3 linked regions of the Homo sapiens genome follow. The protein of the gene in region 2 purifies or fractionates together with the protein of the main gene of each other region. This does not show direct contact. Each region holds a gene or a part of one and is shown on either strand. Other genes may lie near its edges.

Region 1 (8,022 bases), on a different chromosome or scaffold from region 2:
AAGTTCCTGTTGGCTATTTTTCTTTTGCTGCTGTGTTTTTCTAGGGTAGCTGTTCTTACCTGGTTTTCTGCTGTCCCACGTGACTCTCACATGCACTCGTTGGGACAGTGGTTTATGCCCTTGTTCTGTGCACTGTCCAGTACCCTCATTCTGGGATTCTTAACCTGGACTCCAGAGGGATTTTTGCACTCTCTGGAATGATATGCAAGATGATGTGTCCATTGTACATGCAGAAAGGAGCCCCAGAATCTAAGAAAGAGGGAGAACTGTGGGAACTTAGATGTCAACTCCTCTCTTTTCTGTCAGCAGATTATAGCAGAGTGACAGCATGTAAGTGGCATTATACTTATACGTTTCTCTCGTATGTTCTAATTTCTAAAGGAGAGAAAAATAGATGAGGCATTCCCAGACTTAGAAACGTTGACCATCGTCATTCGCAGCACATGAGTGGCACCCCACCTAACACAGCAGTACCTGGCAAGACGCCACAGTTTAGGACCTGGAGCATCTCTAGATGTGGACAGAATTGTTAGTGCTTCCCTTACTGTGTGCCGGGTACCCTAGGCTGCAGGCTGGGTCAGGCTTTCTCCTGGCTTCTCATGAACACTTACGCACCAGGGTTCTCTCACCTCTGCTTCTGTTGCCTGTTGTCACAGAGTAAACTCATCTCTCACAATTCATAATAGAATAAAGAGCAGGATGAAGATTCTGTTACAACCTCCCAGTTTACTTTTTTCCAATTGACCCAGATTTTTGGCCTGGTCCTTGTCAAGGCATCTCATAGGGTTTGGAAGGGCCGGGCCGTGGGATTTACTGGAGGCTTCCCTCTGGGGAGCAGGCAGTGAATGGATGGATGGGCCACAGCAACCCTCAGTGCCTGGAGTCTCCCCTCCTCAACTTCTAGCACAAGTGGTTTCTCATCCTTGTGCCTGTTTGCCATTTGTGAGAACTTGGGGTCCAGTTTGGATGATTGTAAATTATGCCTGAGATAATTAGAAGAGAGACCTGTGGTTGAGGAAGAAAGGGGTGTAGAAAAGGAGTGGAGCTGAGGGATGGCAGAGTGGGACAGAAGTTTGTGTCATTAAGCCTTCAGAGACAGAAGGGAAGTCAAGGAAAAGTAAATCCCAGCTCTGCAGTGCCTCTGGCATCTGCCAGGAGGGAGAAGAGGTGTAAAGGTGTGTATAGGAGACAGTGGCCTAAGCTCGAGAGCTGCCCTCTGTGCTGTAAAGAAAGCAGCTGCCCCACTTTCTGTAATCAGAAAATCCAAGCATTTTGATGTGAGACCAGATAGGAGGGAAAAATATGATCCAACATATATAGATAGAACATCTGCAATCTAGTGAAAAGAATTTTAGAGGCTTCAAGTTGAAGCTGTGAAGAAAGGAGACCAACCCTGGTGTGTTCCTAGAAAGCAAGAAATGGTCAGTGAAAATGGACCGTATCCTTCCCATAGTGACTAACTGTGGCATATCCTCTGTGTATTTCATCTACTGTCTTCACTAATCAGTGCTAATGAATGGCACCATTAAACACCAGATGGGGATTGGTGACGAACAGCAGGTGAAGAGCAGCATCTTTTTGGTCAGTCTTTGGTGTTATGCAAGGTTCTCCTTTTTACAGAGGATGGATAGACTCATAAAGACTGAAGAGTCCTCAGGCAACTTCTGTCCCAGCCTTCTTCCCTCAGGTTGGGAAATATCTACCCCAGAGTTCCCACACATTTTTCCCCAAGTGAGAAGATAATTGATGTCCAGAGATACCGCTGGGGAGGAAAAAGAGAGGGCAGCAGAGAGAAGGATGGGCTTGGCACTTCACACGGACCTCGCTTTGGGTCCATCAGGGATTGGCAGGAGATTGGCCACTGGCTCCTGCTTGTTAGGTTGGGAATAGCCAGTCTCTGCCATTTGGGACCTCTGACTTCCTGTTCTCTTTTGAGGACCTTTGCTAGTGGTTTGTAAGAGTCCTTCCCCTCATCTGCCTGAAACCTCTTCAGCTCTGGTTTCAGCCCCTTTGGTCCATGTTTCCCTCTTGATCTGGGGGCTGAATTTTTGCATCTAGCAGCTTTATGTGCTTCATTATTAAGCTTCAAACTGGAATGGTTAGTCCATAAATCACAGGGAAGTGGGGAGAGGAGGGAAGCCCTCACATCACCCAGCATCACTGAGGTCAGGTCTCCCCTGACCCTGGAAATGCTTCTCCCACCGTAGCTAAGCCCCCATCAGCTGGATGCAGAGAGGGTGACGGAAGGCAGGCTCACAAGGTGCAGCTGCTGCCATTTATCAAGGATTTAACCCTCCAATGAACAAGTATGGATGAAATTACATCCCCAAATAGACCCCTCATAATTTGCCAGCCTTCAGTCTCCCAGCATTTGGGGAAAAAAATCTCTGCTTATCTTTTCCAGGGCTTGCGCCTCATTTTCACAGATGGTTCTCGAATCGTCTTCCGACTGAGCGGCACTGGGAGTGCCGGGGCCACCATTCGGCTGTACATCGATAGCTATGAGAAGGACGTTGCCAAGATTAACCAGGACCCCCAGGTAACGCCCAGCCCTGTGCCCTGGTTAGTTCTTTCTGTTCAAGGGAATGATAGTTTCCCATTGAGCCTGTGTTTCAATGCCCATTTCTCAAATGACTCAACAAGGTACCAGCTGTGCTTACTTTCTTCCATGTTTCTTTCTCCATGTCAACATTATAGATAATAATTATAATAATAAAAATAGGGAGGCTGAGGTGGGAGGATCACCTGAGCCCAGGAGGTCAAGCCTGCAGTGAGCCAAGATCACACCACTGCACTTCAGCCTGAGCAAGAGTGAGACCTTATATCAAAAATTAATTAATTAATTAATTAAAAATAAAAAATTTTCTGAGCATTTATGGTTTGCCAGGCTGTGTTGTAAGCCCATTATGAAAATATACTCATTTAATTCTCAAATAACTTAGACTGTTATTCTCCCTGCTACAGATAAGGAAACTGAGGCACAGAAAAGTTAAGCAACAGTTAATAGGTTTACATGCCTAGTAAGGATAATGAATCTCTCTTTTTTTTTTTTTTTTTTTGAGACAGGGTCTCACTCTGTTGCCCAGGCTGGAGTGCAATGGCACAATCTCAGCTCACTGCAACATCCACCTTCTGGGCTCAAGCAATCCTCCTACCTCAGCTACCTGAGTAGCTCGGATTACAGGCACGTGCCACCATGCTCTGCTCATTTCCTTTTTTTTTTTTTTCTTTTTGTAGGGAGGAGGTCTTAGTACATTGCCTAGGCTGGTCTTGAATTCCTAGCCTCAAGTAATCCTCCTACCTCAGCCTCCCAAAGTGCTGGGATTATATGTGTGAGCCACTGCACCCAACCCAGGATAATTGGTCTTTAAATCAGCCCCTCATCTGGTGTTCTGCTCTGTCTGCAGCATTTTGTTGCTTTGTTTGGTCTGATCACCTGCTTGGGCAGAACACACCACTGGGTCTTAGATTTGGTGGGGGCAGGGAGAGGCAGTTTCATGTGTCTTCACAGAACAGTCTGCAGACCTGCAGCTTGGTAAGCTGGGTTCCTCAGCCATTCCCCCAAAAGTCTTCAGAAGTATATCAGAGTAAGGAGGGACTCTGGGAGCAAAGGGTGGGACAGTGAACTTGAAGGACAACCCCCAAAAATGGAGGAGCCAAGGGGAAGCAGTGAAGGACAGGACAGTTTCTTTAAGTGTTTTTCACAATCCTTATCTCAACCAGAGCTCCATAGCTTAAAAAAAAGTTGGGGAAGTGTTGTGGTATATTAGCCCCTTCTTGGTGATTCACAGCATACAATGCAATGCACCATAAAGGCTCCAAGATTTCGGACATGGTGGCCTGCACCTGTGGTCCCAGCTACTCAGGAAGCTGAGGCAGGAAGATCACTTGAGCGTAGGAGTTCTGGGCTATAGTGTGCTATGCCTGTCGGGTGTCTGCACTAAGTTTGGCATCAATATGGTACCTCCCGAGAGGGGAACCACCAGGTTGCATAAGGAGGGGTGAACCGGCCCAAGTTGGAAACAGAGCAGGTCAAAACTCCCATGCCGATGAGTAGTGGGATTGCACCTGTGAATACCCACTGCGCTTCAGCCTGGTGACATAGCAAGACCCCATCTCTAAAAAAAGAAAAGGAAAGAAAAAAAGAGGGTGCTGAGAAGACTTGCAGTAAAGGTGCCTGTTTACATAGCATTTGCTGAAGGACATTTCTCCAAAGAAAACATACAAATGGCCAACAGGCGTATGAAAAGGTGGTCCACATCACTAATCATCAGGGAAATGAAAATCAAAACCACAATGAGCTGTCACCTCACACCTGTTAGGATGGCTGTTCTCAAAAAGACAAAAGATAACAAGTGTTGGGAAGGATGTGGAGAAAAGGGAACCATCAGACACTATTGGTGGGAATATAAATTGGTATAGCTATTTTGGAATAACCAAAATATGGAGGTTCCTCAAAAAGTTAAAAATATTTTAGTACTAATATACGATCCAGTAATCCCTCTTCTGGGTATATATTCAGAGGAACTGAAATAAATATGTCAAAGAGATATCTGTTCTCTCTTGTTCATTCAATATTATTCACAATAGTCAAGATATGGAACCAGCCTAAGTGCCCATCTACAGATGAATGAAGACATTGTGGTGTGTGTGTGTGTGTGTGTGTGTGTGTGTGTGTGTATACCACAATGGAAAATTATTCTGCCTTAAAACAACAAAAACCAAAATCTTGCCAATCTTGCCATTTGCAATAACATGGATGAACCTGGAGGACATTATGCTAAGTGAAATAAGCCAGACACAGAAAGGCAAATACTGCATGATTTCACTTGTATGTGGGATCTAAAAAAAGTGAATCTCATAGAAACAGAGCAGAAAGGGGCTTACTAGGGGGTAGTGAATGGGGAAAATGGAGAGATATTGGTCCAAAGGGTACAAAATTTCAGTTATGTAGGATGTAGCAGTTCTAGAGATGGAATGTACAACATGATGGCTATAATGAATAACACTTGAAATGTACTAGGAGAATAGATCTTAATTGTTCTCACTATCACCACCACAACAAAAAAGGTAAGTAGGTGACAAGATTGATAATGTTAGTTGGCTTGACTCTAGTAATCAGTTCACTATGTATTTGTATATCAAGACATCATATTATATACCTTAAACATAAACAATTTTTATTAAAAAATTGAAAGTAAAATAAAATAAATAGCATTTGCCATGCTTATTTTTCCACAAAGGCTTTTTTCTTTTAACACCTAATTAAAATCCTGTGAAACTCATTTGGAAACCCCTGGCATAGTGGTTTTGAGCAAAGTTAAAGAGATCTTGTTTTAAATTCTATTCCTGCCACTTAATAACTGTGTGTCCCTGGGTAAGTTGTTACAATTTTATGAATCTTGGTTTCCTTGTCTGTCAAATGGCAGAGTAATACCTACTTCATCTAGTTGTTACCGGGGTTTAAGGAGATAATAAATGTAAAATGTTTAAACACTGTGGCTGGCATATAGGATTAACTTTTCAGAATAAGCAGCACTCTTAGTTTTTTTAGTCTAACTTTAAGTGTAACATAATGCTATTATAACCATTTTTAAGTATATAGTTTAGTAATGTTGTACATATTCATATTGTTGTCCAACGTATCTCTAAAACTTTTTTCCCCCAAAACTAAAACTCTGTACCCATTGAACAGCACCTCCCTGCTTCTCCCTTTTCACAATCCCTGGTACCACCTTTCTCCTTCCTGTGTCTGTGAATTTGACCATTGTAGGTACCTCACATGAGTAGTATAGTTGCTTTTATTACAGAAAGTGGGAGATGAGAGAATGCTTCACTTTTACATTTTTTCCAGTGGCCAGGCCCCAGTTTCAGTCATCACCAGTACCTTGTTGTGTTGTAGGCATCCCTAAAACTTCAACCAAAGGCAATGGGGTCTGCATTATAGACACTTAATAGCACAAGAGAAAAGGAAGAAGGAAATTGTGTTTGTCTTTTGATCATCAAGATAAATGCCTGGCACGTGGTAGATTCAAAGAGTGAATGAAATTTGTTTCCTCTGAACCATAGTCCTCAGCAGGTGGAATGGCAGTGGATGGTGTGAGGTTCCCACAATGCCCAGGTGTATCACCATCTAGCCGGGGAGCTGCCTTTCCTTATTCTGCAGCTGCTAGGCCATCAGCACTTTGTGGGGACTGCCCAAGCCCTAAGGGGAAATGTGGTAGTTTCAGCAGGTGGAGTTGATTCTCCTTTTCCAGGTATAATGGATCGGTGGAGATTTAGATAAGAAAAAGTAGCATTCAGCAGTAGAAAATGTACTACTCCTGGCTCTGCTATTGAGTCATTTAGTCAAATCACTTCATCTCTTTGGGTATCAGTTTTCTCATCTGTAAAATGGGCAGTTCAACCAGATTAGTAGTTTTTTTTTTTTTTTAATATTGAAAGCATTTATTAAGCAACAGAATTCTCTCTTTTTTTTTTTTTTCTTTAAGCGAGAAGTAGATGTGGGGAGGGGTTGTTGCATTTTTAAAGATTCCTGTATTAGGCCGGGTGCGGTGGCTCACGCCTGTAATCCCAACACTTTGGGAGGCCAAGGCAGGCAGATCACCTGAGGTCGGGAGTTCAAGACCAGCCTGACCAACATGGAGAAACCCCATCTCTACTAAAAATACAAAATTAGCCGGGCGTGGTGGCGCATGCCTGTAATCCCAGTCACTAGAGAGGCTGAGGCAGGAGAATTGCTTGAACCTGGGAGCCAGAGATTGTGGTGAGCCAAGATCGCAGCATTGCACTCCAGCCTGGGCAACAAGAGTGAAACTCCATCTCAAAAAAAAAAAAAAAAGATTCCTGTATTAGTCTGTTTTCACACTGCTGATAAAGACATACCTGAGACTGGGCAATTTACAAAAGAAAGAGGTTTAATTGGACTTACACTTCACGTGGCTGGGGAAGCCTCACAATCATGGTGGAAGGCAAGAAAGAGCAAGTCATGTCTTACATGAATGGCAGCAGGCAAAAGAGAGAAATTGTGCAGGGAAACTCCTGTTTTTAAAACCATTAGATCTCATGAGACCCATTCACTATCATGAGAACAGCACAGAAAAGACCCACCCCCATGATTCAATCATCTCCCACCGGGTCCCTCCCACAACACTTGGGAATTATGGGAGCTACAAGATGAGATTTGAGTGGGGACACAGAGCCAAACCACATCAGTCCCATTGGGAACAGTGTGGGAAAGAAATTGGAAGATGCACAAGTGGATGTGGAGGCACTCACTGCTCCAGGTAAGAGACAGGACATTGACTTAGCAAGACTTAACAGCAGGAGAGTGGAGAGAAAAGGGGGCCATGGAGAGAGATTTAGCGGGGAAAAGTCATTGAGGCCTGCTCATGGACTGGGCATGGGGAAAATGCAGAGGAAGATGTCAGGAGCAACTCCTAGTTGTTCACTTTACATGAAAGACTGTAGTGTTGATCCACTGAAATAGAAACTGCTGGAACTAGGTATTGGGGGAAATAACATGTGTTTGTTTTTGGATTTGTGGAGTTTGAGGAGCCTTGGAGACCTGGAAGTAGGCAGTCAGACGTACGGGTTTGGAGCTAAGCATCTGTGTTTAGAGGAAGTGATGGAAAAGCTTCTCTCTATGTCTTCCTCAGGTCATGTTGGCCCCCCTTATTTCCATTGCTCTGAAAGTGTCCCAGCTGCAGGAGAGGACGGGACGCACTGCACCCACTGTCATCACCTAAGAAGACAGGCCTGATGTGGTACGTCCCTCCACCCCCGGACCCATCCAAGTCATCTGATTGAAGAGCATGACAGAAACAAAATGTATTCACCAAGCATTTTAGGATTTGACTTTTTCACTAACCAGTTGACGAGCAGTGCATTTACAAGGCACTGCCAAACAAGATGCCCTTGGGAGCTGTGAGGGAAAGAGGACCTGCGGGCTTAGATCAATCTCAATTCCTTTTCATGCCCTCCTGCATTGCTGCTGCGTGGGTATTTGTCTCCTTAGCCATC
Region 2 (8,022 bases):
TGAGCTGGTAAAAAGCATGCTGGCCATTGGTCCCTGGCTCCCCCCACACAATGGGGCCTGTCTGGTGGTCCACACGGGTTCCAGATTTGGTGATGTATTTCCCATTGGACTCCATGTCGCCCTGGAAAAGGAACAGAAACCCAGTTCTTGGCAAAATGAAAGAACATTTAAAAAGAAAGAAAGAGGCTGAGCGCAGTGGCTCAAGCCTGTAATTCCAGCACTTTGGGAGGCCAAGGCAGGCGGATCACCTGAGGTTGGAAGTTTGAGACCAGCCTGATTAACATGGAGAAACCCTGTCTCTACTAAAAATACAAAATTAGCCAGGTGTGATGGCGCATGCCTGTAATCCCAGCTGCTTGGGAGGCTGAGGCAGGAGAATCGCTTGAACCCGGGAGGCGGAGGTTGTGGTGAGCCGAGATCATGCCACTGCACTCCAGACTGGGCAACAAGAGCAAAACTCCAACTCAAAAAAAAAGAAAAAAAAAAAAAAAGGAAAAGAAAGGAAAAGAAAGAAAAAAAACCCAACCCTCTTCCTGCAAGTCTTGATCCTTCACACACTGTACGCAAATCCTGCTCCTTCCTGCACCATGCCAAAGTCCTGCCCAGATGCTCCAGGCAGACCCACCCTGCCCTGACACCGTGAGGTGGACCTGCACACGTGTCCACAGGCACGATCCCCTTCCTCCCCACACCAGTGAGGACACAGCCTCCCAACCTTTCCTGCTTAAGCCACTGTGCAGGAAGGACTCATGCCCAGGAAAAGGTGGGTCTGGAGGTCAGGCAAGGACCTCCCTAAAGACAAAATCGGTCACAAAATCAGCTCATTTCTTAAGGGAGAGCAGGCTGGGGTCCAGAGTGCACAGCTTCTTTTTTTCCCAAAGAGACAGAGTCTCACTCTGTCACTCAGGCTGGAGTACAGTGGTAGAATCATTGCTCACTGAAGCCTCGACCTCTTGGGCTCAAGCAAGCCTCTTGCCTCAGCCTCCCAAGTAGCTGGGACTATAGGTGCCGCACCACCATGCCTGGCTACTGTTAGTTTTTGTGGGTTTTTTTTGTAGAGACCGGGCCTCACTACGTTGCCCAGGCTGGTCTTGAACTCCTGGGCTCAAGCAATTCCCCCCAGCCTCTGCCTCCCAAGGTGCTGGGATTGCAGGCATCAGCCACCATGCCTGGCTAAGAGTACAGCCTTTGAGGGCTGTCACCACAACTAAATGCTAGGCTTTGGGTACCCACCTGGGCCCTGGTCATGGCAACCCTCACCAAGGCAGCTGGGATTTGGGGAACCTTGGCCTCTCCTTCAGTCACAGGATTTGCTTCCAGGTGTTGGTGAAGCCTTCTGTACCTGCCCAGAGCAACTCAAGAGCTGCTGGACAGGGACTGGCTTTGTACTAAACAAAAGCAAGGATAGGGTTGGGCATGGTGGCTCATGCCTGTAATCCCAGCACTTTGGGAGGCCAAGGCAGGTGGATCGCTTGAGGCCAGGAGTTCGAAACCAGCCTGGGCAACATAGTGAAACCCCGTTTCCACTAAAAATACAAAAATTAGCCAGGCAAGGTGGTGCATGCCTGCAATCCCAGCTACTCGGGAGGCTGAGGCACAGGAATTGCTTGAACTCAGGAAGCGGAGGTTGCAATGAGCCGAGATCGCGCCACTGCACTCCTGCCTGGGAAACAGAGTGAGAATCTGTTCAAAAAAAAAAAAGCAGGGACAGGTGTGGAAAAGCTTTCTGGGACATAATGTGACTAGGAGAGGGCCTGCTAAGCCTCTCGGGGGGCTCTGGAGATCCCAAGGGAGAAGAGGGCCATGTAGTCCAAAGAGGCCACCACAGACTAGATACACACTTGCTTTTCTGGAGGGATAAAGGCAGTGCAGGCTATAAGGGATTCCAGCTTGCAGCCCCACCCTATGGCCAAATCCCACCTCCTCAGACATGGACAGACCCAGGTCCTCATACCTGTACCAGATCCTTCCTCCCCAGATACTAACAGACCTAGGGCCTCATACCAGGGCTAGATCCTACGTCCTCAGACACTATGGTAGGCATGCATAGTGATGTGCAAGAAAGAAGTGACCCCAGCTGAGAAACATCCCCTGAGTCAAGCCAGGACCTCCCTAGCCAGGGCACCATGATCACCAGTCATGCCCCTCCCATGGTGATCAAACTCAGATGACACTCAAATGGAACCAACCTCAGTTACAAAGATTCATCCTGAGACAAGGAGCACAGATGGACCTTGGCCAGGCCCAAGGGCAATGGGGCAAAGAGCTCCTGGAGGAGCTGAAACCCAGGTTCCTAGACCTCCCAGACCCCCCACAAATCTTGCTGACTCCAAGGCCTGGCTTGGCAGCTGGTACCTGCTGGAAGTACGCAGCAAAGCGGTGCAGGTACTGGTCATAGGGCAGCATGGCGTGTGTCTCACACCCAAAGCAGTTGATGTACCAGATACCCAGCAGGGCCAGCAAGACGGGGGCGTTCTTCTCCAGGGGCGTCGTGCGGAAGTGCTGGTCCTGAAACAGGAGCAGGATGAGTGGGAGCTGAGCAGCTGCACGGGGAGGGGAGGGACAGGACAGTGGGGGAGAAAGCGGGGGACCAGGACCAACACACGCGCCTCTGGCCAGCACTTGGCAGAGAACCAGCCTCAGCACTCACCATCCAGTGAGCCCCCGAGAGCAGCTGCTCGAAGTTGTCAAAACCTGTGACACAAAAGCAGAGTCAACAGAAGTGGCCACACCCTGCGTCCTGTGGGCAGTGGGCACAGCTCCTTCTGCAACGAAGGAAGGCTGCATGGAGAGCCAGAAGATACGACATGGGAGGACTCGGACCTAGACAAAGCCCCTCCAGTGAGAGGTGGCCCTGAGTGCAGGGATCTGACTCTGCCTAGGATAGGAGAGAAACAGGACTGCAGTTGTGAGGGGCAAAGACGGGGGCCAACTTGCACACGCAAAAAAACCCAGACCTTCCTTCTGGACATGAAATAAATATCCCAGCCAGCTGCAGAGAGGCCAGCAGCCTGTGAGGACAGCATGATGTTCAGGGACACAAGCCCCCTACCCCGACCTTAGACTGCAACACTGTCTCCCACAGGGGCTGCAAGACACAGAAACACACTCACCCACGTGCAGGGCAATGGAGAGTCCGATGGCCGACCACAGCGAGTAGCGTCCTCCCACCCACTAGGAGAGACAGGACAAGGTGCTGAGGGAGGGCCGGCACACCCCGCCCCCCACCTCCTGCCGGAAACCCTGTCCCTGGTCTTGCACAGGGGCGTCTCGGAGGGCCCTGGCCCAACCCACCTCCAGGAAGCAAGGCAGCAGGCAGGTGCTGGCAACACATGGGAAGACCAACAGGGCAGACTACAGATGACTGACCACAGCCACAAGACAAACTGAAGAGCTTACCGTGGTCTTCCCTGAGATGTCGGGCCCTGTCTCTGCAGACACCAGCAGACCCAGGACCTCATACCTGTGCCAGGGCCCACCTCCTCAGACACGGACACACCCAGGGCCTCATACCTGCGCCAGGGCCCACCTCCTCAGACACGGACAGACCCCAGGCCTCATACCTGTGCCAGGGCCCACCTCCTCAGACACGGACACACCCAGATCCTCATACTCATACCAGATCCTACCTCCTCAGATATGGACAGACCCAGGGTCTCACACCCATGCCCAGCCTCACCTCCCCAGACACTGGCAGACCCAAGGCCTCATACCTGCACACAGCTTCAACTCTTTAGACATGGTCAGACCCAGATGCTCATGCCTGTGCCAGATCCTACCTCCTCAGACATTGAAAAACCCAGATCCTCATACCTGTATGAGATCCTACCTCCTCAGATACTGACAGACCCAGATCCTCATACCAGGGCCAGATCCTACTTCTTCAGACACTAGAAGACACAGACCCTCCTACCAGGGACAGATCCTACCTCCTCAAATACTGACAAACCCAGATCCTCATACCAGGGCCAGATCCAACCACTTCAGACACTGACAGACTCAGGTCTTCATACCTGTATCAGATGCTACCTCCTCAGACATAGACCCAGATCCTAATACCTGTATCAGATCCTACTTCCTCAGATACAGAGACATGAAGATCCTCACACCTGTACCAGATTCCTAATTCCTCAGACACTGACACACACACAGATCCTCATACCTGTACCAGATTCCTACCTCTTCAGATATTGACAGACTCAGATCCTCATAAGGGGGCCAGATCCAACCTCCTCAGAAATTGACAGACTGAGATCTTCTTACTAGGGCCAGATCCTACCTCCTCAGAAACTGACAGATGCAGATCCTCTTACCAGTGCCAGATCCTACCTCCTCAGACATTAACAGACCCAGATCCTCACACCTGTACCAGATCCTACCTTCTCAGACATTGAAAGACCCAGATCCTTATACCTGCACCAGATCCTACCTCCTCAGACATGAACAGAACCAAATCCTCATACTCATGCCAGATCTTACCTCCAGACATGACAGACCCAGATCCTCATACCTGTACCAGATACTGCCTCCTCAGACATTGACAGACCCAGATCCTCATGCTTATGCCAGATCCTACCTCCTCAGTCACTGACAGAACCAGATTCTCATAATTAATACCAGATCCCACCTCCTCAGACACTAGAAGATCCAGATTCTCATACCTGTGCCAAATGCCACCTCCTCAGACACCCGAAGACCCAGATCCTCACAACTGTACCAGATCCTACCTCCTCAGATACTGACAGACCCAGATCCTCATACATGTACCAAATTCCCACCTCTTCAGAAATTGACAGACCCGGATCCTCATACCAGGGACACATCCTACCTGCTCAGACATGGACAGACCCGGATTCTCATACCAGGGCCAGATCCTACCTCCTCAGACATTGACAGACCCAGATCCTCATACCTATAAGAGATCGTACCTCCTAAGTCACTGGAAGACACATCTCCTCATTCCTGTACCAGATGGTAACTCCTCAGACTTTGACAGACGCAGATCCTCATACCTGTACCAGATTCCTACCTCCTCTGATATTGACAGACCCAGATCCTCATTCCTGTACCAGATGGTAACTCCTCAGACATGGACAGTCCTAGATCCTCATACCAGGGCCAGATCTTACCTCCTTAGACATGGACAGACCCAGATCCTCATACCAGGACCCGATCCCACCTCCTCAGATACTGATGGACACAGATCCTCATACTTGTACCCAGCCTCACTTCCCCAGACACTAGAAGACTCAGGGCTTCATACCTGTGCCAGATGCTATCTCCTCAGGCACTGGAAGCCCAAGGGCCTCAAACCTGAGTCCAAACTCACCTCCTCAAACACTGGAAGACGCAGATCCTCATATCTGTGCCAGGTGCTACCTCCTCAGACATGGAAGACCCATATCCTCATACCTGTGCCAGGTGCTACCTACTCAGACACGGGAAGACCCAGATCCTCATACCTGTGCCAGGTGCTACCTCCTCAGACACAGGAAGACCCAGATCCTCATACCTGTGCCAGGTGCTACCTCCTCAGACACGGGAAGACCCAGATACTCATACCTGTGCCAGGTGCTACCTCCTCAGACACTGGAAGACCCAGATTCTCATACCTGTGCCAGGTGCTACCTCCTCAGACATGGAAGACCCATATCCTCATACCTGTGCCAGATGCTACCTCCTCAAACATTGGGAAGACCCAGATCCTCATACCTGTGCCAGGTGCTACCTTCTCAGACACAGGAAGACCCAGATTTCATACCTGTACTAGATGTTACCTCCTCAGACACCAGCAGACCCAGGGCCTCATACCTGTAACCTGCTGTTATCTCCTCAGACACCAGCAGACCCAGGGCCTCATACTTGTACCAGATCCTACCTCCTCACACACTGGAAGACCCAGATGTCATACCTGTACTTAGCCCACCTCCTTGGATACCTCTTCCAGCACCACATACCTGTACCAGGCCCTACTTCCATAGACACTTGCAGACCCAGAGCCCCTTACCGGTGCCAGGACCCACCTTCTCAGTCTCATACTTGTGCCCAGGTATGCTTCCTTGGACAATGAAAGACCCAGCAGCTCTCTGCTACACTTGGCTAGGTCTCCTCAGATATTAAAAACCCACAGCTACATTTCTGTTCCCCAGCCCACCTGCTTGAACAGTGGCCCAGTGCCTCATACTTGTGCCAGGCCCCACATCCTCAGATACTGACAAACCCAGATCCTCACACCTGTGCCATTCTTTGTTGAACAATGAAGACTCATCACTTTGTACCTGTGCCCATTCCCAACTCCTCAGGTGGTACTGACAGATCCAGAACCTTAGACCTGTGCCTCACCCCACCTCCTGGACACTGACAGGCCCAGTGGGTCATATCTGGGCTTGACCGATCTTCTCGGCCTATCACCTAGGCCTATCATTCACACTGCACCTTCTCAAGCCACACCTGCAAGCTCCACTTGGTGCCATCAGAGTCCTCAGAACTTCACGGATGTCTTCCTAACAGCTGTTTATGGAGCACCTCCCACATTTCTAGCACAGGCAACGGACACAGAGTGTGGGAGAGAGACGTACATCAAATAATCATGCCAATAAATGTGAAACTGAGAAACAAGTGCTGAGGAGAAATTGGAACATGGTGCTGAGGCCACTTATAAAAGGAACCTGAGGGGTACTTGACCCTTGATCTCAAGAACGAGCAGGCATGACCCAGAGAAGCACTGAGGGAGCATTCCAGCAGCCATAACAGCACATGCAAAGGTCCCGTGGCCAAAGCAGTCTTTCTCAAGCGTGACAGAATTAAGGCCCACAGAAAATGATCTGAGTGACTTCTCAGTTCTCCCAAGGATGGTCCAAGACTAGTAACCTTCTAGACACGAAGGAGAGGTGCCCACTTATTACATCCAGTAGATGCCTTGGGCTGTGAGGGCTTAATTCTCTCCTGGAAGCCCACTGAGGCAGGGGGAAGCATAGCACCTTCCAGAGGATAAAGGAAGGGGTGGGGACCGCAGGGTGGAAGCTGAGAGGCACGGTGGGAGGACTGAGAACAGTCTGCGGCTAAGACAAGGACAGAAGCAAACAAGCCACTTTGAAGCCCCGGAGATGGACTGGGGAGTGCAGAGGACTCATTCTGGGAGCTCTCCAGTGTGGCCGAGAGGTTTCTGGCTTGGGCAATGAGATGACCGGTGGGGCCACTCACTTGGAAAGGCTCTGGGTTTCCGGGAACCTTACCTGACAGACGCAGTCCTACAGACTACATCATGCTTGACATAGGCTCTCACATCTCATCTAACAGATGCAGTTCTATTTTTTTCTTTTTTTTTTAAGAGACAGGGTCTTGCTCTGTTGCCCAGGTGGAGTGCAGTGGCATGATCACAGCTCACCGCAGCCTCAAACTCCTGGGCTCAAGTGATCCTCCCATCTCAGCCTCCCCAGTAGCTGGGACTACAGGCACACACCACCATGCTTGACTATTTTTTAAATTTTTTGTAGAGATGGGGTCTTGCTCTGTTGTCCAGGCAGGTTTTGAACACCTGGCCTCAGCCTCCCATCTCAGCCTCCCGAAGCTCAGGGATTACAGCCATGAGCCACCACACCCAGCCCAGACTCAGCTCTAGAAACTAAACTTCAGCACACAGCCAGCCCTCTGGCTGACAGAGTCCAGGCTGCTCACCTTGGCCGAGAACAGGTCCTCAGATCCCAGTTTTGTGACAGCCCAGCAATGCCAAGCAGTGTCTGACCTGAGCCTCCGAACCCTCAATCTGCAGACATGGGTCTCTAGACCTCACCTTTAAGTGCAGTGGCCTCTGAGACCATACATTATAGATGCAGCTCCTCAGTCAGTTCAATGTCCTGGGCCTAACCTGCCCCAGTGCCCCAGATCTCACCTTATCTAACCATCATCTACCTTTTTCCTCACTTTACTCACTTTCTTTTTTTTTGAGACAGGGTCTCTCACTCTGTCGCCCAGGCCTGAGTGTAGTGGCATGATCTCAGCTCACTGCAACCTCTGCCTGCC
Region 3 (8,022 bases), on a different chromosome or scaffold from region 2:
CACCTTGGGTGCTGTATAGGCTCAACACCCAAGTGTGGCCCAGGCACCAGGCACCTCTGAGGCACTGGCCCCCTGAAGCTGCAGGACACTGCTTGGCAAGCCCTGAGCCAGGCGTCCTGTATCGGGGGGTCTGAGGTCTGGCCCCACCATCTACTAGTTGTTGTGGGACCATGGACAAGTCACTTCTCTCGGAGCTCAGTTTCCCTATCAAGAAATAGCTAACAATCGTGCTCACATCATTGGTTCACTGATGACTGGATGAGATCCTGTCCATGAGGCACAGAATAGTGCCTGCGGGAAGCAACATTTTTATTTATTGTTTTGCAGCAAGAGCCTTCACCTGAGGTTCTGCCGCTCATCAGTCAGATGGAGTTAGTGCCCCACCCGGGGATGTGGGGAAGAACACATGAGAGGTGTGACAGGCTCTGTGAACTCTCAGGACCCACCAGTGCTCCCAGAAATCTTACAGAAACCCCAGGGCCTCTGCCTCAGGACAAGCATCTGCCTAGCAGACTCTAAGGTCCAAAGGTCTCATCTCTTGGGGATGCAGAGGGAAGACCTGGCTGCGAAGAACTGGCCAATGCTGCCACGTACAAGGATTTAAGACTAGTGCATCCCTAAAGAGCCTCAAGCTTGTAAAAGTTGGATCCACGAAGGCTGGGCACACAGAATTCGGGGTGGTCTACACGGTGTAGACACTTGTGGTCCACACGGTGTAGACACTTGTGGTCCACATCCAGGGGGAGAGGTCAGGCAGACATGAGGACTGCAGAAGATGTCACGATGACGCTGGCCGTGACAGTGAGCTCCCCGGTCTGTGGGTGTGGCTGGACAGATGGGGGTGAGGGCTGGGAAGAAGGACTAATGCCTAGAACTACACCTGGAAATTCAGCCATCCATCCACACAACACACACATACATTAAGGACCTGCTCTGTACTGACCTGGTCCCAAACCCAGAGCTAGAGAGGAATAAATAAGCCACAGTCCCTGTCCCCACAGAGCACATGATCCAGTGCAGAAAGCACTTGGCAGATGCTGGAACATAATGTGAAGAGATCCCACAGAGGATCCACTGGAAGCCACTGTGCCAGGCACGGGGAGGGCCGGGGAGGCTCCACAGAGGAACCAGAAAGCTGTGATGTGGAGGAAGGTCTGCGGGCCAAGTGGGGCCAGGGCACTTCCCAGAGGGAAAGGGGTTCAGGTTTGGGTTGGACCTAATGGACTGAGGCTGCTGAAGACGTGACATCAAGGCGGGAAGAAAGTAAAGCTGCAAAGTACTCCCATGGCCCCTGGGCATTTTCTTTTTAAAGAAACAAACACACGAGCTGCTGTATGCTTAGCAGCTAGCCGGTGGCAGATGTGAGCTGCCATCACTCACGGCTCCAAACTTTGGCCCAGGAGCTGCCATAAAGGCCTGGGCATTTGTACTGAGGTAGAAAGGGAGACACCTGCATTGCAGTGCCCTTTGTAACAGAAGGCCAAGACTGGGTCCACCTGACTCCCTAACCCTGCTGCAGAGAGGGGCTTTCTAGTCCCCACAGGCCGCTGCAAACGGCCATTCCACGCAGCCCCTTCCTGGCAAGAGTGATGGTTGGGCAGGGCAGAGGAGTGATCCCCTGCTGGCTCTGGTTTCAGAGCGGGGCGGTGCTGGGAGCCCATGCGGCGTCAGATTACAGCCTGACTCAGCACATCCTGAGGAGGCCAGGACAGTGAGGTCTGGGATGGAGGTGGGGGGAAGGGCCACCTTGCAAAGGTGCGAAGAGGCAGGTTTCATACATACAGGGTGGATGTAAATGGACACAAACTAGGTCAGTGGTCCCTAACAGTGCCCTTGGAAGAAAGGGAAGCACCCACCTCCCCAGGATATACACGTTCACACTTGCACTTCCAGAGACAAAACTGTCCAACTGTCCACCAAAAGAAGATCCATCCTTGGGACACCTCAGAGGAGCCCCCGGCTGACATGGCCACATGACCTATGGTACCTTCACCCTACAGAACACCATGAAGGAGCCAAAAAGAAATCCGAGGAGCGCCACGTGCAGAAGCAGAAAGAGCTCTGGGGGCGAGGGAGGCGGCAGAGCAGCACGGTGGCATGGGGCACTCGCTCCAGACCAGCCCTCCTGCCCACAGGCCTGGCTCCACAGTAAGCCAGCTAGGTGTCCCTGGGCAAGAAGGTTAACATCTCTGTGCCTCAGCTGCCTCCTCTGTAGGGTGTGGATAGTAAAAGCACCTACCTCACAGGGCATGGCAAATATCTTTCAAGTGCTCAGCCTAGTACCTGAGACACAGTATGGGCTCATCAAATGTCAGTGATGCATGCCACAAGGGGTGACACTTGTGAAAAAAAACAAAATAATACCATGTTCTGTATGAGAGTTTATGGGAATAGAGATGCTTGAGTACACACCCAGAAGACAATGTGGAAAGAAACATGTCGCACTTAAAATGCTGGTTACCTGGGTGGTTAGGAGGTATTATTTTAACTTCTCACCCAGAAAATGAGCACGTATAATGACATAATGAAAATCAGTTTCAAAACAAAGGAGGAAGAGCATAAGAGCTGATGGATATGTCATCCAGTTCCCCTCAGCCCCCCTGGGCCTCAAACCCCCTCCCCCCATAGGCCTGGAACATACTTCTCTGGCTTGGGCCCTTGGGACGGCAGACTGAGCCCAGCTTTACCTGGTGAATGATTCCAGATCCAGGCTTCCAGAAGCCCACGCCATATTTGGCACCTGCAGTTGCCAGGAAATTATAAACTTCCTGGTTGATGTCCTATTGAGACAAATCAATAATTGGGCGTTAGCAACATGGTTTGTGTCCAGGTGACCCTCACCAAGCCCTCCCCACCCCATCAGCCTCCCTTCTGACTCTGAAATACTGGCACTGGAGACAGGCCCTCTCTTAGAGACCTTCTAAAAATAATTCCAAAGAGCTTGGATGTTGGCCCAGTCTCCACTAGCAGTGTCAGAGAGAAGGACAGGGGAGCAGAGATGGAGCCCCAGTTCTGTGACACCTGGCCAGGGTGGTGGGTCTGGAACAAGTCCCTGCCCTGGTCTGGGTCTCAGTTTCCTTATCTGGAGAAGGGACTGGTCTAAATAATTGCCAAGAGTGCCTGTGGCACTCAAGTCCCCAGATGAGGCCAGCAGTGCAGAGGCAGGCCCTGGCCTAGGCGCAGTGGCTGGGTGCAGTGGCTCACGCCTGTAATCCCAACACTTTGGGAGGCTGAGGCAGGCAGATCACTTGAGGTCAGGAGTTCAAGACCAGCCTGGCCAACATGGCGAAACCCTGTCTCTACTAAAAATACAAAAATTAGCCAGGCATGGTAGTGCACACCTGTAATTCCAGTTACTCGGGAGGCTGAGGCACAAGAATTGGTTGAACCTGGGAGACAAGGATGCAATGAGCCGAGATCGTGCCACTGCACTCCAGCCTACAAGACAGAGCGAGACTGTCTCAAAAAATAAAAATAAGAATAAAATAAATAAAAATTAGCTGTGCACCTGCGGTCCCAGCTACTTGCAGGCCGAGGCAGGAAGATCACTTGAGCCCAGGAGTTCAAGGCTGCAATGAGCCGAGATCGCACCACTACACTCCAGCCTGAGTGACAGGGCAAGACCCTGCCTCAAAACAAAACAAAAACCCCAGAGGCTTTTTTTGAAATAACTTGCTGGAGATCCCAGGCTTAGACGACACCTGAGAGAGCCCCCTGGACTGGTGTCTGACTGTCGGAAGTGCTGAATTCTTGGTAATGTGTTTGATGGGCCCAAATGGAAGGCTGTCGAAGGGACCACTGTTCTGAAAAGGAGGTTTCAGCCAAACGAAATGATGACACGGGCTGTAGCCATCCTGCCTATAATCTGAAGGAAGCTTCCTTGAGGGACAGGGAAGGGCCCACTGCACAGCAGATGTGAGGCCAGGGTTTATCTGGAAGACATGGGAGGTCCCTGTGTGGGGTCAGTGAGACTGACCCCAGTAACAAAACGGTGGGATTCTAGTGGACTCTACTGAGTCTCAAAGGAGGAACTAGGAAATGGGACCTGCCAGCCTCCGGCATGGGAGAGCGATGCTTCAGAGAAGGGACCTCAGCCAGTGCCCTCGGACCCTTGATGAGATACACTCAAACCACACACCCCTTCACTGAAACTCCAGACCAGTGTGTGCCCTCTGAAGGCCCACTGGGTTCCCCCAGGTAAGAGAATGGCAAAGAACGTGGGTTTCCAGAGCAGTCTCTTTCCAATTAATAATTAATACATCAGCTTTTTCATTTACAAATCGGTCACTTATGAAATTGGTATCCAGGACAGGAGGCTGTGGTCGTGTCTGGGCGCATGTGACTACACGTCTGTGTTAAGTGTGAGGAAGGGGTGTGGGAGGACCCCAGACTGGTGCCAGAGTCTCGGCCTGGACTCAGCCTGGATCCATCTCTGGTTCTGTGACCCTAGACAGGTCACTGCCTCTGAGCCCTAGCCAGAGGGACACTTTACAAATACACGTAATAATGACCACATTCTAGGCCGGGCGTGGTGGCTCACACCTATAATCCCAGCACTTTGGGAGGCCGAGGTGGGTGGATCACCTGAGGTCAGGAGTTTGAAACCAGCCTGGCCAACGTGGTGAAACCCTGTCTCTAGTAAAAATACAAAAATTAGCCAGGTATGGTGGTGGGTGCCTGTAATCCCAGCTACTCGGGAGGCTGAGGCATGAGAATCGCTTGAACCCAGGAGGCGGAGGTTGCAGTGAGCCGAGATTGCAGTGAGCCGAGATTGTGTGTCACTGCACTCCAGCCTGGGGGATAGAGCAAGACTCTGTCTCAAAAAAAAAAAAAAAAAAAAGACCATATTCTTTCTCCGCTTAAACTGTTCTAGGACTCTGAGGATGGTGACCATAGCGTTCCCACAGCCCTCGCGTTCCTGGCTGCCCCTGCCCACCTCATACCACCCGCTCTTCCAAACACAGAGAACTCCAGCAGTACAGGCCCCCTCTCACTTCCACAAAAGCATCAAGTTTCTTCCTGGCTCAGGGTCTTTGCAAATGCTGTTCTTTCTAGCATGTTCTTCCTCCAGTCAATGCAACTCATATGTTCAGTCCTCAGGTTATCTGTCACATCCTCAAAGAAGCTCTCTCTTTCCCCCAGCATCTAAATTAGACCTCTTTTTTATACTGACCAAGTCCCGCACTTTCCCTTCCTAACACATACCCAGATCTGCAGTTACCTACCTCGGCCATTGTTTAGTGTCCACACCCACAAGCAGATCCCTGAAGGCAGGGCCCCTGCCTGACTTGTTCACACTGAACCTCAGTACCTAGCCCAGTGCCTGGCACATAAAGAATGTTCAATTTGTTGAACGCATGAGGGAATGAGCTCTGAATGCTATGAGTGTGCATCTCATCTCCAGAAGATTCACTCTGAGCCCATAAAGCAAGCAGAAAGCCAGCCCCAGAAGGTAGCAGCCCTGTTGTGGGCAGCTGTCCCCAGGGCTGCAGAGGACCCACGTTCCCGGCCATGTGCAGTTCCCGGCACTGTGGGAGCTCCTGTAACATTATTACCCCCACCAGTGTTGTTGCTAATGTGGAAACCGCCGGCCGGCAGGCAGGACTGTCCTTTCAGCTGAGGGGAAAGAGCCACTGTGGAGCCAGGATACCACCAGGGGGCCAGGGTGGAAGAGAGGGTCTGAGTGAGAGCGCCGCCCCGAGTGTTTCCCATGGGGCTGGGAGGCTTTGAGCCATGCTGACCCTGGGAGCTGGAGCACTTTCAATCACATGCCCACAGGCCGCAGCCCTGCCAGCATTCAGCTCCTGCCAACGCCCCTCCCCGTGAGGGGGACCCACTCCCACTGCAGGGGCTGGAGAGTGGGGAGGCCCAGAGCTGGGAGAGAGAGGCCCGCTGTTGCCAAGAGCAGGCTGACACAAAGGTCCCACAAGCCGAGCCTGGGAGAAGGAGCAGGAACTCGATTTCATAGAAGGGTGGGGGAAAAGCCTTCAGCATGGCATACAGCCACCCCCATGTAGTTAAGCAAAACTCACAGAAGAATGGCCCCCAAAGGAGGCTCCTCAGTGACAGAGCACCAGAGTGGGAGCCAGGATCAGCATTGAGCCCTAATCGTGCCCTCATGTAGTTACAGAACTCAAGTATGATGCCACTGCCGCCTCAAATTTACAAATAGTGACCCTAGCACGCCTACCTCCCGGAGAGGGTCCTTGGAGGGTCAGAGGAGAGCGGGAGTGGGTGCAAATGGGATGCTGGCAAACTATGCTAAGATGCACCCCTCACTGCTCAGGCAGACAGGGAGGCCTGCATGGCCCCTTCCAGAGCACCTGGCAGGATCCACATCATCCTCCAACAGGACAGAAAAAGGACCTGCAGTGTGGTAAGGTCAAGGATGATTTTTTCTTTCTTTAGGCTTCCTCTGTATTTTTTAACATAATGAGCAAGTGCTATTTTTAGAAAGAGAAACAAGTAAAATCAAGTTTTAAAAGCAGACCAATCCAAAGAGGTGTGAGAATTTGGAGGCAATGCCCTGGTTTGCTCCAGTGTGAGGGTGAGGCCTCTCGCCCAGTCTTGCCCACTTGCCCACCCCCAAAGCCACCTTCTGCTCACCTTGGCCCGGCGCAGGTCTTTCTCGCCCCCAACCTGGGCTTCAATCAGATGGTCACAGTGGATGGTGGATGGCACAGCCACCTTGGACAGCCCGCTGCTGATGAACTGGAGCATGGCCATCTGGGCCGTCGCATCCTGCATGGCCACACGGTCCGGCCGCAGCCGCAGGTACGACTTGCCTCGCTCAATTTCCTGGCTGGCGGGGTCATCCAGGTGTCCATACACAATCTTCTCCGAGAGTGTCAGCGGCCGGTTCAGTCTGTGGGGAGAAGAGCAGAAGGGTGGCCTGGTGCTAGCTGCACGGCCTCCTCCCGCCCTGCCTCTCCCTCTCAGTCCATGTGGCAACCTCAACAGTGGCCAGGGACAGGGAGTCTGAACTCAGGACCTCAACGTTCCACTTGGGTGGGGACTGCTGGGTCCTGTTCACTGCACCACCTCCTCACCTCCTGCAGCACCTGGCACTTGTTAGGTGCTCCACAATTACTTGATGAGTAAGTGAATGACAACATCACAAGAGGGCAGCGCTGGTTCTTTTCAAAGGATCCTGGCTTTCCCAGCATCGTAATTCCTACTAAGTCCCCGCAACATGCATATCTCATCATTCCTGCCATTTAACAACAACAACAACCAAGAAAGCCATTTAACAACAACCAAGAAACAGGCTCAGGAGAGTGACCAAGTTCACAGCTAGATTTCGCTACTTCCCTCTGTGCCCTCAGCCCCACTAAGGCACAGGGAATCAGGACCAGCATCCCCTTCACCTGTCCACCCTGTCCGCCATCTACAACCCTCCACACCTCAGGCCTGGGATGCCTGGCTACCCAACTATGACACTAAGACTTTGCCCATTAGCTCCAGACATAGACAGGAGTATCTGTCAGTTTTCAAGAACAGAGACCGGGTCACTGCCACTGGCCTCTCACAGCTCCTCCTCCTCCTAGACCCCATTTCCCCGGAGGCCCCACCCCTCCCTTCCTCATCAGAGCCAAAATGGCAGTCCAAACCTGCCCTGGGGTCCGGCCCTGTCAGGACTCAACCGTCTTCTCCCCACAAGCCTCCCAGCCATCTAGACTGAGCTCTGCGCGGGTCCACTCTCCCTGCCAGGCTCAACGTTCCGGCTGACTCCCGGCTGCACCCACACAACAGAGCAAAGGGGCTGTTGTGGCCGCCCTGCCTGCCACAACAGCCCCTTTCAGACCTCACGCTCTGCCCCCCAGAATTCTCAAAGCTTAGGCCAAGCTTGAGACTTCCTTCCTAAGGAGGAGCAGAGTTCAACCCACACCTGACAGGCTCTGTCCTATTGTTTGAGGCCAAGAAAAAAGTTTCAGACTGGGAGTCAGAAGCTCTGAGTTTAACCCTGACCTGGGGGCCTGGTGTGGTGGCTCACGCCTGTAATCCTAGCATTTTGGGAGACCA

What was found. The genes of interacting proteins can lie anywhere in the genome.
Region 1: the proteins of GPI (region 2) and PGM1 fractionate together in Homo sapiens (co-fractionation; 2 studies listed by BioGRID). This does not show direct contact.
Region 3: the proteins of GPI (region 2) and ACO2 purify together in Homo sapiens (affinity purification with mass spectrometry; 2 studies listed by BioGRID, with this or other methods). This does not show direct contact.

Annotation. Positions count from the first base shown.
Region 1 is NC_000001.11:63,651,928-63,659,949, forward strand, and holds part of PGM1 (phosphoglucomutase-1), read left to right. Parts: intron 1-2,404; coding exon 2,405-2,539; intron 2,540-7,658; coding exon 7,659-7,748; 3' UTR 7,749-8,022. UniProt on the Homo sapiens protein: Catalyzes the reversible isomerization of alpha-D-glucose 1-phosphate to alpha-D-glucose 6-phosphate. The mechanism proceeds via the intermediate compound alpha-D-glucose 1,6-bisphosphate.
Region 2 is NC_000019.10:34,388,400-34,396,421, reverse strand, and holds part of GPI (glucose-6-phosphate isomerase), read right to left. Parts: intron 3,175-8,022; coding exon 3,114-3,174; intron 2,695-3,113; coding exon 2,651-2,694; intron 2,509-2,650; coding exon 2,356-2,508; intron 122-2,355; coding exon 1-121. UniProt on the Homo sapiens protein: In the cytoplasm, catalyzes the conversion of glucose-6-phosphate to fructose-6-phosphate, the second step in glycolysis, and the reverse reaction during gluconeogenesis.
Region 3 is NC_000022.11:41,506,634-41,514,655, reverse strand, and holds part of ACO2 (aconitate hydratase, mitochondrial precursor), read right to left. Parts: intron 6,866-8,022; coding exon 6,607-6,865; intron 2,781-6,606; coding exon 2,688-2,780; intron 1-2,687. UniProt on the Homo sapiens protein: Catalyzes the isomerization of citrate to isocitrate via cis-aconitate.